Homo sapiens: one gene and its partner. The protein of the gene in region 1 purifies or fractionates together with the protein of each later gene. This does not show direct contact. Each region holds a gene or a part of one and is shown on either strand. Other genes may lie near its edges.

Region 1 (7,026 bases):
CCAGCCTGGATGACAGAGCGAGACTCTGTCTCAAAAAAAAAGAAAAAGAAAAAAACGGAGCTGGCATTTTAGTAAATAGCCGGGCCATAAACTTGACAAATAACTGTCTCACGTGCCCAGTGGTGGCAAGCGCTGTGGAGCAAATACATAGCAGGAGAGGGGGATCTGAAATGTTGGGGACAGGAATGACATTTTAGGGAGGGGGCAGTGAAGGCTTCCCTGAGCAGGTGACATTCGAAGTGAGGCCTGAAGGGAGGAAGGACTGGAGGGAGGGAGCCTTGAGGATATTTGAAGAAGGGTTGGTCCAGACCAGGGAAACAACAAATGCAGAGACCCTGAGGTGGGAGCTTGCCAGGCATGTTTAGGGAATATGGAGGACACATGTAGGCTGGAGGGAAGAGTAGAAGAAGTTCCTGGGTTCTAGGAGCAGAATGTTTGAGATTACTGGGGCTGGAGGTGGTTTGGCACTGTGACAGTTGACAGCCATAATCATGGCAATCAACATAGCCGAGTGATTGAGCCTCACTGTGCTGGCATTTTCCTCACCTGCTCTCCGTGCATCCCCACTACAACCGTGTGAGCTGTACCTTGATATTAACTGCATTCACAGAGGAGGAGGCTGCAACCCCTCCCAACCCCCACCCCAGGCATGCTCTTCCTAAAGCTCACCCTGATCGGGGTTAGGCCCGCATCTGCCCTCACCTGATGGGAAGGCCAGCAGGACAGGGACTGAACCTATTTGGTTTGATTAAAGTGCTTGGCCCCTCATGAGCACCCAGTCCACTTTTGTTGGAACATTTCCTGAGGCTTAGAAAATGGGAGAGGCTGCCTGAGGTCATACGGCGGGGCACCGGGCAGCAGTAGGGCTAGGCCTGGAACCCGGGACTGGGCCGGGTGGGGGTGCGCTAGGTTCTGTGTTCTTACTCTTCACTATGGAAGTCAGCCAGCCAGGGGTGAGTGTGTGGGAGGTGGGGGCGAGTATTCCGGATCATCAGAACAGCATGTGTGCAGGGCAGGTGGCAGAGAATGGGCCTCTGTGTGTAGGGAGCTGTGAGTAGTTGGACCAGAGCAGCATGGGGCTGAGGGAATGGTGACAGGTGCAGCAGGGAGGCGGCCACAGCCTGATTTCGCAGGCCCCAAGTGTCTGGCCCAGAGGTTGAGCCCTGGTCCTGCAGGACCCAGGAGCCGTTCTGTCCTGTTCTGGGCTGAGTTTCCCAGCAGCAGCCCACCTCATGCCAGATGTCAGGGTTTGTGAAGGGCCTGGCCAGCTTGGCAGGCCAGAGGGTGAGGCGGGTGTCCAGCTTCCCAGGAGGTCCCAGCTGAAATCTGGCCATGTGTGTGCTACTTCTCAGGTGCCCCAGGCTTCATGGGTGCAGCCTCACGGTCCTTGATCCACCTGTACCCCACCCAGGCCAACTGTGGGTGCCCCCTGCCCTGGGGATTACAGAGGCTCTTGGCACAGGGGGAAGGGAAAGGTGGAGGGTGTCAGGAGTACTGGGTGAGAGTCCTGGCCTGTACTCCCAAAGCTGAACCCAGGGGTTCAGTCCCCCAGATGGGCTTTCTGTTTTTTGCTCCTTTTGTCTCTGTTTCTCATCTTTGTTTCTTTCGGTTTTTTTGTTTGTTTGTTTTTGAGACAAGGTTTTGCTCTGTTACCTAGGCTGGAGTGTGATGGAGCGATTGCAGCTCACTGCAACCCAAAACTTCTGAGCTCAAATGATCCTCCCGCCTCAGCCTCCAAAGTGCCGAGATTGCAGGTGTGAGCCACCACGCCCAGCTAATTTTTATTTTTATTTTTGTAGAGGCAGGATCTAGTTATGTTGCCCAGGCTGGTCTCCAACTCCTGACCTCAAGTGATCCTCCTACCTTTGCCTCCTAAAGTGCTGGGATTACAGGCATGAGCCGCGGCACTCAGCCTGTTTCTCATCTTCCCATGGCTCTGATTCCTTATTTGTCTCTCATCTCTTATTTGTCCCTCTGTCCATCTCTCATCCCCACCTTCTCTCTACCTCTTGTCCCCCATCTCCCTGAGGCTGAGGGTCTGCTGGAGGCCAGGGGTCCTCAGAAGTCCAGCTTATTTGGGGCTTGTCTCTGCCTGGAACCAGAAGAGTTGGGCCCACCAAGCCTTTGACTGCAGCCTGTCCCCTGGAAAGCAGGATGACAAAGGCATGACCCCAGGCCTCCCCTGCTCTTCCTAGCTCCCCATACCTACCACACGAGGCCAGCCCCTTCCTCAGGCCAATAAGTGGCTACTGCTTTTGGCTCAGATCTTCAAACCCTGCCAAGCCAGGGGCTGGCTCTGATAGCAGGACCTCAGCACTACAGCCAGAAGACAGCCCGGGCCTCCTGTGTCCTGAGCAGCCACCCTCCCTGTCCCCACCTCAGTCTGCTCATCTGTTAAGTGATACAGTTTAGGCCAGTTGACCCCACAGGCCCTGCCAGGCTGATGATCCATGCTGTGACTTTGGTGACCCTCAAGTGACTTTGGACAAGTGCCTTGACCTCTCCAGGCCCAGCTTCTCTCTCTGAAGGATGGGACAGAGGGTCCCTAGCTCCAGGAGGTGGTGAGGGGTGCTGAGATCATCTTAGCCCTGTATCTGGCATGTTCCAGTTGCTCAGTGAAAGCTACTTAAGTTGTGTATGTTTTCTCCCCCTGGAGACGGAGTCTTGCTCTGTCGCCCAGGCTGGAGTACAGTGGCACGATCTCGGCTCACTGCAACCTCTGCCTCCTGGGTTCACGTGATTCTCCTGCCTCAGCCTCCCGAGTAGCTAGGAGATTACAGGTGCACCCTCCCGAGTAGCTAGGAGATTACAGGTGCACACCACCACACCTGGCTAATTTTTGTATTCTTAGAGACGGGGTTTCACCATGTTCATGTTAGCCAGGCTGATCTCGAACTCTTGACCTCGTGATCTGCCCACCTCGGCCTCCCAAAATGCTGGGATTACAGGCATGAGCCACCACACCCGGCCATTGTGTATGCATTCTTTATGGATGAGAATTAAGGTATTTGGTCTGCAGAAGGATCCAGCTTCCAGAGGCCAAAGAGAGATGGAGTTTAGATGGAAAAATATTCAGATTTGGAGGACGTTCTCCATGGCGTGGGGAGAGAGCTGGATCATCTTTGGTTTCAGGACTGCCCCGAACGTCCAGGCTAACATGTCTCATTGATGTGTCTGGGATCCAAACCCAGCTCTGAACCTCAGTTTCCTTGTCTAGGAAATGAGATCACTCAGTTCCTTCCTTGACGGGCTGATACTTGAATGAGAGACTGTGCCTCAGACTCAAAAACTCAGATGACTGCAGGGGCCCAGCCAGGGCTGCCACCAAATCTGGCCACCCAGTGTGAGACCCCAGGGAAGGGAGAGGACCAGGGTGAACCTGGAGCTCATATCCCATTGGATGGGGGCAGCTATTACTTATTGTTTAGGCCTAGGGTGGCCAGAGCCCTGTGTTGTTGAGGGAAGCAGGAAACTAGGAATTTTACGTGATTTTCAAATTTAGCTCACTTTTTAAAACTGAGGGCAAAACATGTCAGAGGGAGTCAGTTTGCAACCTCTCCGATATGGGCCACACCCCAGCGCATGACAGGCTTCAGTGTGTGTCAGCCATTGTTAGGGTAACTGTTATTTGATCATGTTGCAGTTGGCTCTGCCCACTTCCTGTCCCTGCATGCTGTGGGGCAGGCAGGCAGGTCGATCGGGAAGGTTCACTTGTTCTTTCCTTCTCACCGCCTCTCCGTGTCCTCCCACCCCACCCACTCGGGGTTTTCTGCTTCTGAGCCCTGGGCCTTGGCTACAAACAAGAATCAGAAAGGGGAAGGCCTTGCTGGGCCTGATCATGGTGATCCCCAGGCTGGGGCGGCTGCTGGGGCAGTGGGGGTGCTGCGTGGCTCAAGAGAAACAGCCCTCGCCTGAGAATTGGGGAACCAGGAGATCTAGGCCCCTGTGACCTCTGCTATGTGACCTCTGTTGAGGTCCTTCTCCTTCCTGGGCTTCACGGTCTTCTTCTGCACAAAAGGAGCCAAGGGCATGTAACCCTGGTGTGTTCCGTTCCCCTTCTGAGCCTTGGTCTTTTCAAGGGGCAGGGGAGGGCAGCTGTCCTGGTTCTGGGTCAGGGTAGGTCAGGAGCAGCTTGCTGTTGTGTGACCTGGAGAAGGCCTTCTCTCTCCCTGAGCCTCAGTTTCCCTATCATGACAAATGGGGAACCCAGTACTTCCTTCCCAAGGTATGTCGGTGAGCGGCACCCAGAGACAAAGCCATGGAGTTGTCCGTTAGGATTGTGGTTGGGAATTTGCTCATTCTGCAAGCATTTACTGAGTGTCAGGGCCCTGGTGAGTGAGCCAGACATGGTTCTGGGCCTCCCGACTTCACATTTAGGTAGGGAAAGACAAACGTAGACAAGGCCACAGGCATGAGCAATGGGCCTCGTGTGGGGGGAGTGTGGGGTCAGAGGAGGCATCATGGATGGCTTCCTGGAGATGGAGGTTTCCAGGGTGAGATCTGCAGGAACAGTGTCAGGTGCACAGGGAGTGAAGAGAACAGCATGCACAGAGTCCTAAAAAGAAGAGAGGGTGGACACAGGAGGAGCCCTTCTCACCTGCTCTGGCCCTGACCCCTTCACAGGGACCTGCCTGGCCCCGCTGCTTAAGTGGGGGCCTGGGCTCCTGACCCAGAATGTCGTCAAGGTGATAGGGTGATGGGGAATAGAGGGAGGGACCAGGGGCAGCAGGAACAGGATAGAGCGGGGCGAGAGCGGGATCTTAGGAGCCAGACCTCTGGCCATGGAATTCTGGTCTCTGCTGACTAGTTGGGTGGCTTTGGGCTACTTCCTTGACCACTCTGATGGTCAGTTTTCTCATCTGCAAAAGGACATCACTTCAGCAGGCGCCTGATATGTAGTAACTGCTCAGTATATTTTAAACACCCATGATAAAATTGTTGTCATTAAAGGTCTTCTGTGCCTTATGGAGCAGCTGCCTGGGGCATACCCTAGTCACATGTTCTATGTCACCCACATGGTGTTTTTATTTCCTTTAATTTTTTTTTTTCTTGAGATGGAGTTTTACTCTTGTCACCCAGGCTGGAGTGCAATGGCGTGATCTCAGCTCACTGTAACCTCCGCCTTCTGGGTTCAAGCGATTCTCCTGCCTCTCCCGAGTAGCTGGGACTACAGGCGCCTGCCACCACACCTGGCTAGTTTTTGTATTTTTAGTAGAGATGGGGTTTCGCCACGTTGGCCTGGCTGGTCTCAAACTCCTGACCTCAGGTGATCTGCCTGCCTCGGCCTCCCAAGGTGCTGGGATTACAGGTGTGAAACACTGCACCCGGCCTTATTTCCTTTAATGTTTAAAATTTTTTGTTTTGTTTTGTTTATTAATAGAGACAGGGTTTTGCTATGTTGCCCAAGCTGGTCTTGAACTCCTGGGCTCAAGCAATCCTCTCGCCTCAGCTTCCCAGGGTGCTTGGATTACAGGAGTAAGCCACTGGGCCTAACCCCTTTTATTTATTTTATTTTTATTTTTATTTTAGTTTTTATTTTTTGAGATGGAGTCTCACTCTGCCGCCCAGGCTGGAGTGCAGTGGTGCCATCTCAGCTCCCTGCAATCTCCACCTCCCAGATTCAAGTGATTCTCTTGCCTCAGCCTCCCGAATAGCTGGGATTACAGGTACCCGCCACATGCCTGGCTAATTTTTGTATTTTTAGTAGAGATGGGGTTTCACCATGTTGGCCAGGCTGGTCTCGAACTCCTAGTCTCAAATGATCCTCCTGCCTCGGCCTCCCAAAGTGCTGGGATTACAGGTGTGAGCCACCATGCATGGCCCCCTTTTATTTTTTTATTTTAATTTACAATTAAAAGAAAACAATGTAATATGCTAGTACTTTAAAAGGAAATAAGGGAAAAGCCGGTCTTAACTATATAGATTTTTTTTTAACATAAATGGCTGCTATTTGGCACTTTGCTTTTTGCACTTACCTAGATGTCCTGGACATCTCTCCACGTCCACTTATAGACAACTGCCCAGGTGTTTTCCTGGCTGCAGAGATGATGTGGACTGAATTCATTTGGCCAATCCCCAGGCAATGGCCACTTAGGTTATTTCCCAAGTTTTGACACCACAAACAAAGCTGCAGCGAGTGAATCAGCTTGTCTGGGCTCGTGTGTCTGTGAAAACTATGTGGCAACACTGAAACAGATTGCACACCCAAAGCCTGACTTCTGGCTCCTCTTGGGAATCAGAAGCTCTGCCTCCCTGGCCCACACGCCATACTTTTAGAAGCCCCACTGCCCCAGAGCCCTATTTGTCCATGAATTCCTGACTCATTGTCTGGAGCCTGCTTGAGGGAGGCTGGGCAGGGTGTGAGCCACCAGGATTAAAGGTTGTTTGTAGCCTCTGCCTCCAAATAGTTACCTGCAAAAGGGGACAAGTGAAGCCACAAAGATTCTACTTTAAAAAAAGAAAAAGAAGCTCATTAAAGTTCCCTTAGGTGTCTCCAGAGAGAGCCCAGAGGGGCCCAGGAGACCAGAGTTCTGGTCCTGTCTGTCAAAGAATTGGTCTGTCAGAGAATTGGGCCACTCTCTGAAGGGCCCCATCCTTGGTTTAATGCATCCAGCCCTGACTGTTTGACCTTGGTGAGGGCCTCAGTGACGTCATCTGTGAAATGGGTACAGACTCCTTTGCGGGAGTCTGTAAGCTCAGCTTGTGGTTGGCAATATAGATGCATTAAACAAAGTTGAAAAGCTCCTGGCCAGGTGCGGTGGCTCACACCTGTAATCCCAGCACTTTGGGAGGCCAAGGTGGGCGGATCACAAGGTCAGGAGTTCAAGACCAGCCTGGCCAATATGGTGAAACCCCATCTCTACTAAAAAATATAAAAATTAGCCGGGCATGGTGGCGGGTGCCTATAATCCCAGCTACTCGGGAGGCTGAGGCAGGAGAATCGATTGAACCTGGGAGGTGGAGGTTGCAGTGAGCCGAGATGGCACCACTGCACTCCAGCCTGGGTGATAGAGTGAGACTCTGTCT
Region 2 (7,067 bases), on another chromosome or scaffold:
TGCTCCTGCATTTACCATGTGAAGTACAAGCTCTCATTTTGCCTTCTGCCATGAGTTAAAGCTTCCTGAGCCCTTCCTGTATAGCCTGCAGAAATGTGAGCCAATTAAACCCTCTTTTCTTATAAATTATCCAGTCTTGGGTATTTCTTCATAGCAATGCAAGAATGTCCTAATACATCTGGTATCCCTTATTTCTGAGCATTGGTTTACCTCGATGATTCTGTGCTTTCTTTAATGTTATACTACCTTCCATTGCAGGACTTCTGTTTAGACTAACACCTATGCCTGCACTCCAACTCAAGATTAGGCAAATTCCCATCTCCACTAACTTAGCATAACGTACTTCCCATTCATAGCATTTATGGCAATTATCAGTGATTGAATTCATAATTGGGAATATTTGATTCACATCCGTCTTTCTTATAAAATTCAAATACAACGAAGACAGGTAAAATGTCACTTCAGTTCACCACTGTATCCTGCATCTAATGTACCAACACACATTAACTACTTAATACATGCTGAAATAAATTAAAACCTATATATATATTTTTTTTTTAAATCGTGGACAAAATAAAAAAGCAAGCACATACTTTATTTAGAAAATAGAATAAAATAAAAGCAAGGAAGCAGACACAACTGCATATAAAAGGGAAAACAAAAGTGAAATAACCAAATAGGACTAAACATCTAAGTTGACCATTTTCATTGCTAAACTTTTGTGAAATTATCATTCAGTGCTTACACTAGACTATATGTTTTACATGCATTGTTTAACTTAATCTTCACAGCACTCTGTTATCAATGTTTTACAGATAAGAAAACTCAGGCTTATTGACGTTAATTGACTTATAAAACCATTAATAAGTTCTGGGCCACTTTGGCACCTGAACTTTCAAGCATTAATCAGAAATAAAAAGGTTAAGCTTCTCTGCAAAATAAAAAGATTCTCGGATTTGAGTTAAAAAAAGAAAAACAAGATGCAATCTATCTGCTGCTTACAGCAGATATGCCCAAAACAAGATGACACAGGTTAAATATAAATGGATAGGGTGAGGTTTATTAGGCAAAAACAAAGAGAAACATAGCAAAAGTTGAAGCATTAATATCAAAGTAGGTTTCAAGACAAAAATACAAAATGATACAAAGAAGGTCATTTTATATTAAAAACATAAACTATGTAAATACGAAAGACATGCACCTTTATAGGATGAATAATATATGTTCAAAATACAGAAACCACAAACTGCTCAACACACAATCATAATGGATGAAATTTTCATCTTTCGAATAAAGTAGAACAAATAAAAATAGTCATTGTTAAGTTGGTTTTTTGTCCTCTTCATAATGTTAACTATATCAAAAATGAGTATGTATTTACATTTTCAAAACATATCTAAGAGTATAAAGTAAAATATTAACTTTACTCCTTTAAACTCATCCTTGTCTTTATACATATCCGTTATTATAAGAGATTAATGGTCTTTTCAAATATTATTTTATACACGTACATGGATACATACATATCTATAATCGTTTTTAAGATAATGGAACTTAATTATTATTTATTTATATTATTAATTAATTTTTTTTTGAGATAGAGTTTCGCTCTTGTTACCCAGGCTGGAATGCAATGGCATGATCTCAGCTCATTGCAACCTCTGCCTCCCCGGTTCAAGTGATTCTCCTGCCTCAGCCTCCCGAGTAGCTGGGGTTACGGGCATGCGCCACCATACGCAGCTAATTTTTTTGTATTTTTAGTAGAGACAGGGTTTCGTCATGTTGGTCAAGCTGGTCTCAAACTTCTGACCTCAGGTGATTCACCTACTTTGGCCTCCTAAAGTACTGGGATTACAGCCGTAAGCCACAGCACCCAGCCCAAGATAATGGAGCTTAATTAAACTTAACTGAATTGTTTTAAGAAATATTTTTAAATGCAGAAAAAGAGAGTAGTATGATAAACATTCATTTTGCACCAAGAATAATTGACAATTGTTTTAAGTTAACATATTTATTTAAGTCTTTTGTTAATAACAAGATAGTCAAAGTTAAAGCATATTTTGATATGTATGGGGGTAAAGAAGGAAGGGAAGATATATTCAAAGTGTATATAAAATATACATGTAAATTCTAGAAAGTTTTTCAAACAGTGGGTGTTAGTCAGCACTGAAGTGTTGGAATGGAAATGTAAGTGGAGGTGGGATTGAAACAGGCTGTTGCTGTAACACTGTTTTTCTTAATCATAAGAATGATTTAATTTTATAGTTTCTCAAAATACCCAAGGGAGGAACATAAACTCCTATATATAACACGACTCTTTTTAAACATATATATCTATAAATGCTTGGGGTGTCAGGAAACACTGAAAATAAATTTACCAAAGAGTTATTTTAGCCATTCAGTACTTATTGCTGGGTGGTGGAATTATTGTTGACTTTGTTCTTAGTATACTTCTGCGTTTTCCAAATTATCTACCATAAGCAATTATATTCTGATTGTAAAATGCTACAGATGAAAAACTAGAAATAAACATTAAAATTATTTAAAAGGTTTAGTTCACTAACAATCCTGGTAATGTTGCATTGATACTAGGATACTCAAGACAACAGATTTGGTCACAACTAAAACTTTTTAGAGCTCTCCACTTACTCATTTCCAATTGTGTATGATCAATTTCTACGGTCTATTACATTCACAGCCGGTGCAATTGTAAATTGGTACCACCTTTCGGAAAGCAATTGGCTCTATATATCTTTAAAATCTTAAAGTTATTTAAAAAGCCTTATGCCCTTTACCCCAGAACTGTCGCTTTCCAAAAATTTTCCTAAAGGGGGAAATTCGAAATAAGAAAAACAATACACAGGTTGAGCACTGTAACTTATATATAATAAAGTTGGGGAAATTAGAGAAAGGTTAAATTACAGTGCATTTATTCAACAGAATACTCCGTCATTTGTAACAATGACTATGAAACAAAATAGAAAAATACTCACGTTAGGTTAAATGAAGAAAACATACCTATCTATGGTGGATCACAATATGAAAATTTAATACTTCTAGGTAGAAGAAGAGAAAGAGAATATGAAAAACTAAAAAGTCTTTAGGGGTAGGAGGACGTGAGCAGATCTCTAAATAACCTTGAGATCAATGGAAACAGTGTATAGATTTTTAGGTTCACTTATAAGCTGCTGATCTTATTTTAAGATCCTTCAGTATATGTTATCAAAAAGTGTTTGCTTTTCTTGCAAACGCCCATGTTTGGGAAATATGCAAGTTGAAGCCAATGCATTACTGTACTTTTTATAATGCACCTGAAGTTTTACTAGCTGTTCCAAGAGTGGTGTACTGAGTATTGATAAATCGTTTAAGTGGAGGCTCACATGAAATATTAACTATTACCCCAGGGCTTTAGAGCAACTGTGATCAATTCTGGCACAGCATCAGATCCATAATTTTCTTTGCTACTCTGATTTCTACGTTTTTTGTATTTTCAAAGTAATGTGACCGCAACTGTTAAGTTATTAAAATTGCTCCTGAGATGAGGGCACTCGAGACACAAACACACGGAGAGGTTCGTCCGCTATTCCTCTCATTTACTAAGCTCACACGTCTACCCTGAGGATTTGGAAACACTGTATGATTCTGCACTTACTGTGCACTTATCCCTTAGTGCTAAGGGGTAAACAGATACCCACCGGGCTGTCTAAGGCGCAGCCTCAAGGCAAGGAAGAAGGGTGCTGGGTCGCAGGGGATGAGAGGGCGGGGCGGCCACTTTGCTGCAGGAGATACCCAAAGCCAGTTAGCACTGAGGAAGTCAGAAGAGAATTGTCAGTCTCTCGGACACCTTCATTTTCTGCCCCGGAAATTTCTCCTCCGCTGTTGTCTGGGCTCCACTTCCGACCCCCAGTTGCTACCAGCTGTAGTCCGACCTATCGTGGCCCGGGCTAGTGCCAGCCTCCCGCCGCTACCTCCGCCTCGTCCCTTCTCCTCTGCGCCTGCGCGACCGGAAAATTCGCGAAGGTTCCTGAAACGCAACGGATCGTTTCCGGAAGCCGGTAGCCGCCTCAGTCGTCAGACCGGTGCTAGCGACACGGGAGTGGCAAACGCATCCTCTTGCCGTTCCCGGTGTTTGGGCCTTGCCTGTGACGGTGGGAAAAGAAAATGGCCTTGCTGTGCTACAACCGGGGCTGCGGTCAGCGCTTCGATCCTGAGACCAATTCCGACGGTAAGAGGAACGCGCCGCCAGCCCTCCCTCCCCTCCACCTCATCAGCAGGGGAGGCCCTTTGGGCCGGAGGGTGTCCGCGGATCTCCTGCAGCCGTCCTCGCGCGGCCCCAGGTCCATGCCCCTCCTGGGCCTCCCTTGGCTGCCCGCGCAGCCCGCCGGCCGCCCCTCTGTTGCGCCGCGTTCCCTTGGCGAGCGCCCGGCCCCGGCGCCTGACTGTCCTCTGCCACTGCGGAGAGAGACGCTCCCATGGATCCACGTGTTTCCCCCGTCGTCCCCGCACTCCTTTTAAGTCGCCTGGAATTTAGAACGAACACGTTTCTCCTCTGGCCCTCCAGTCTCTGGGGAAGCAAAAATTAACGAGGTACTGGTGAGCTTGCTTTGTAGTTCCCGAAGTAGTGATGGCTGTGATTGCCTGCGCGAGAGGGAGAGGTGGCCGGGATGAGCAGCGGGTTGTCCTAGCATGTAAGCTCTGCCTTGTAGAAGTTTGTGTTCAGTCGATCCGCTGTTACAAACCTCTTACAAGTGTTCTTGGTAAGGGACATTACTCTGTATCTTCACGCTGTTTTGATAGGTTCATCCTGGTGGTACGTTAGTTATCTTTTTATTACTAGCGGCATTTGTTGCTTGTTCTTCTTGTGGCCTCCACGTTTTACTACCATGCCTACTCCCGTATAAAATGAGTGAATGTCATCTACAGCACCTAGATGTCGAGTTAAGGATCCAAAGCGAAAATGACTATTAGGTGAAGGACGGGAAATGATCAGTGAATTGAAATTTTGATTGACAAAGAAGTGAGATGATTCCTTGCGTATCGTGAGAAGTGACAACACGTTTTCAGATTGAACTAGCATTTAGTTTATATTTTCTGCATGCCAGCCATTATTGCTTTATCTTATTTAATCTTCATAACCACCCTGGGACGCATGTAATGTTAATTAGACCCATTTGATAGAGAAGCTCAGTTCAATGAGGTTGTATTAATAACATCCTTCATTATTGTGGAGGAGATGAAAACTGATGCCTTTTGAACTCTTCACCTCTGAGATGTTTGAAATACTTATTTTTGGCACACAGGTAAATTGATAGCGTTATTTAAAATAAGACCATTGATACAGAGTTTTAAGGAAAAGGAAAATCCAACCTATGCAATACTCAAGTTACCGCCACTGACATTTTTATGATGCAAATATGATGCTACTCATGAGGAAAATTGTGAGATTTCAGTCGATGACAAAATCGAGAAACGATTTTAAAGCCCTTTGGTGTTGGCAGCCTATGTAAAACATTAATTGCACTTATGTCTGCAGATATTCTACTTTAATATAGAATACAGGGGAAAGACTGACGCTTTGCTTATGAGACAATAAAGTTCAGGGGCGATAGTCATTTGTTGGAAGTCTGTATCCATGTGTGAATTGGTGCAGTGCCTAGGAAACAGAAAGCGACCAGGAAAACCGTCTCAAAACTTGGGTGGTCAGCAGTACTAGTTACAGCAGAGAAATTCCAATAAGTATATTTACTTTAGCGAAATGACGGTTTTTTTAGAGACTTAGAATACATTTTTCAAGTAAACTGATTGAGTGAATGGAAGGAGAAGAAAATGGAGATACGGAGTAGGAGACAAGAACTAAATAGAAAGGTTGGTTAGGAGGTTTTTTAGGAAGAGGTTTGACCTTGTACAGTTGACAGAAATAAGTTAAAAGAGGTAAATACACAAGCAAGTTCCATTTTGCGTAAGCCAGATGTTGGATCTGTCATCTTTAAATATTTCTTAATCTACACTAAATGCTTTTTTTCTCGGTGCTGTGGCATAATTACCGTGCTCGTTGACTTATAGTCTCATGATTTTTTTTTCCCCCTAGAGACAGAAATTAGACTCCCTTTTAAGCTGATAGAACGTTTTAACTTGTAACTGAAGTTAAAGGGTGTTTAAGGGAGACACAGTTGGTAACTTACATATGTTAAACACTTATTCTAGAATAAACACAGCTTCACAAACGGTATTTTTTTTAATCGACGTATACGAGGAAAACTGAAGGAACTACTAGCGAGTAGCTCAGTGAGAAATTTAGCCAGGGTCAGACCCAATGTTAGAAGCCCTGGACACTTAACCACTGCTACTGTCTTGTAGCTTCTCACCCATAAAATATTAATTTTGCCAAAACTCTTAAAACTGATAAAGAAAGGATGGATATTAAAGAAAGAATGAAGAATGTCCATTTGCTTGTTACTTCTTGTTTTTGAAAGCAGTGGCTTTCTAATTGTGTTCATGTTAGTTGTATGGTTCAGATCTGACTCATTCCTGCTGCCATGCTGCCAAAATTGACTTATTGTGACATTTTATGCCTCTGACTCTGTTATACATTGCGTTTATGTTTCTGACTACTTTAAATTTGGTGTTTGAAAATACTGGATCTATTCTCTACTTCCATTCCCCTCTCAACTTCATGTCCTTCTGCATACCCATTTCTACTTCCAACCTCCTTTTTCAGCCCTTAATTCCACAACTACCCTTAATTAATAACATCTTTCTGATCCCACGGATTTACTTACTGTATCAGGAAGATACCTAACACTTTCTACATTAGCTAGTATCTATGCAGCACATGGTTACTAAGGAAGCAATACTGGCTAGTAACGGGGTAGGGAGATTTCTGTGAGCACCAGTAGTAAATTTTGAGGCAACACCAGGAATCAGGTGATAGAGCAAGGGTGTTCAATCTTTTGGCTTCCCTGTGCGACATTGGAAGAAGAGGAATTATCTGGGCCACATTGGAAGAAGAATAATTGGGTCACATATGAAATACACTAACACTAATGATAGCTGATGAGCTTAAAAGA

The links. Proteins that work in one complex are often made in the same cells at the same time.
Region 2: the proteins of PEDS1-UBE2V1 (region 1) and CHORDC1 fractionate together in Homo sapiens (co-fractionation; 2 studies listed by BioGRID). This does not show direct contact.

Annotation. Positions count from the first base shown.
Region 1 is NC_000020.11:50,143,717-50,150,742, reverse strand, and holds part of PEDS1-UBE2V1 (TMEM189-UBE2V1 fusion protein), read left to right. Parts: intron 1-6,849; coding exon of another isoform or gene 6,850-7,014; intron 7,015-7,026.
Region 2 is NC_000011.10:90,220,049-90,227,115, reverse strand, and holds the start of CHORDC1 (cysteine and histidine-rich domain-containing protein 1), read left to right. Parts: upstream 1-4,066; 5' UTR 4,067-4,161; coding exon 4,162-4,225; intron 4,226-4,416; exon of another isoform or gene 4,417-4,587; intron 4,588-7,067. UniProt on the Homo sapiens protein: Regulates centrosome duplication, probably by inhibiting the kinase activity of ROCK2. Proposed to act as co-chaperone for HSP90. May play a role in the regulation of NOD1 via a HSP90 chaperone complex. In vitro, has intrinsic chaperone activity.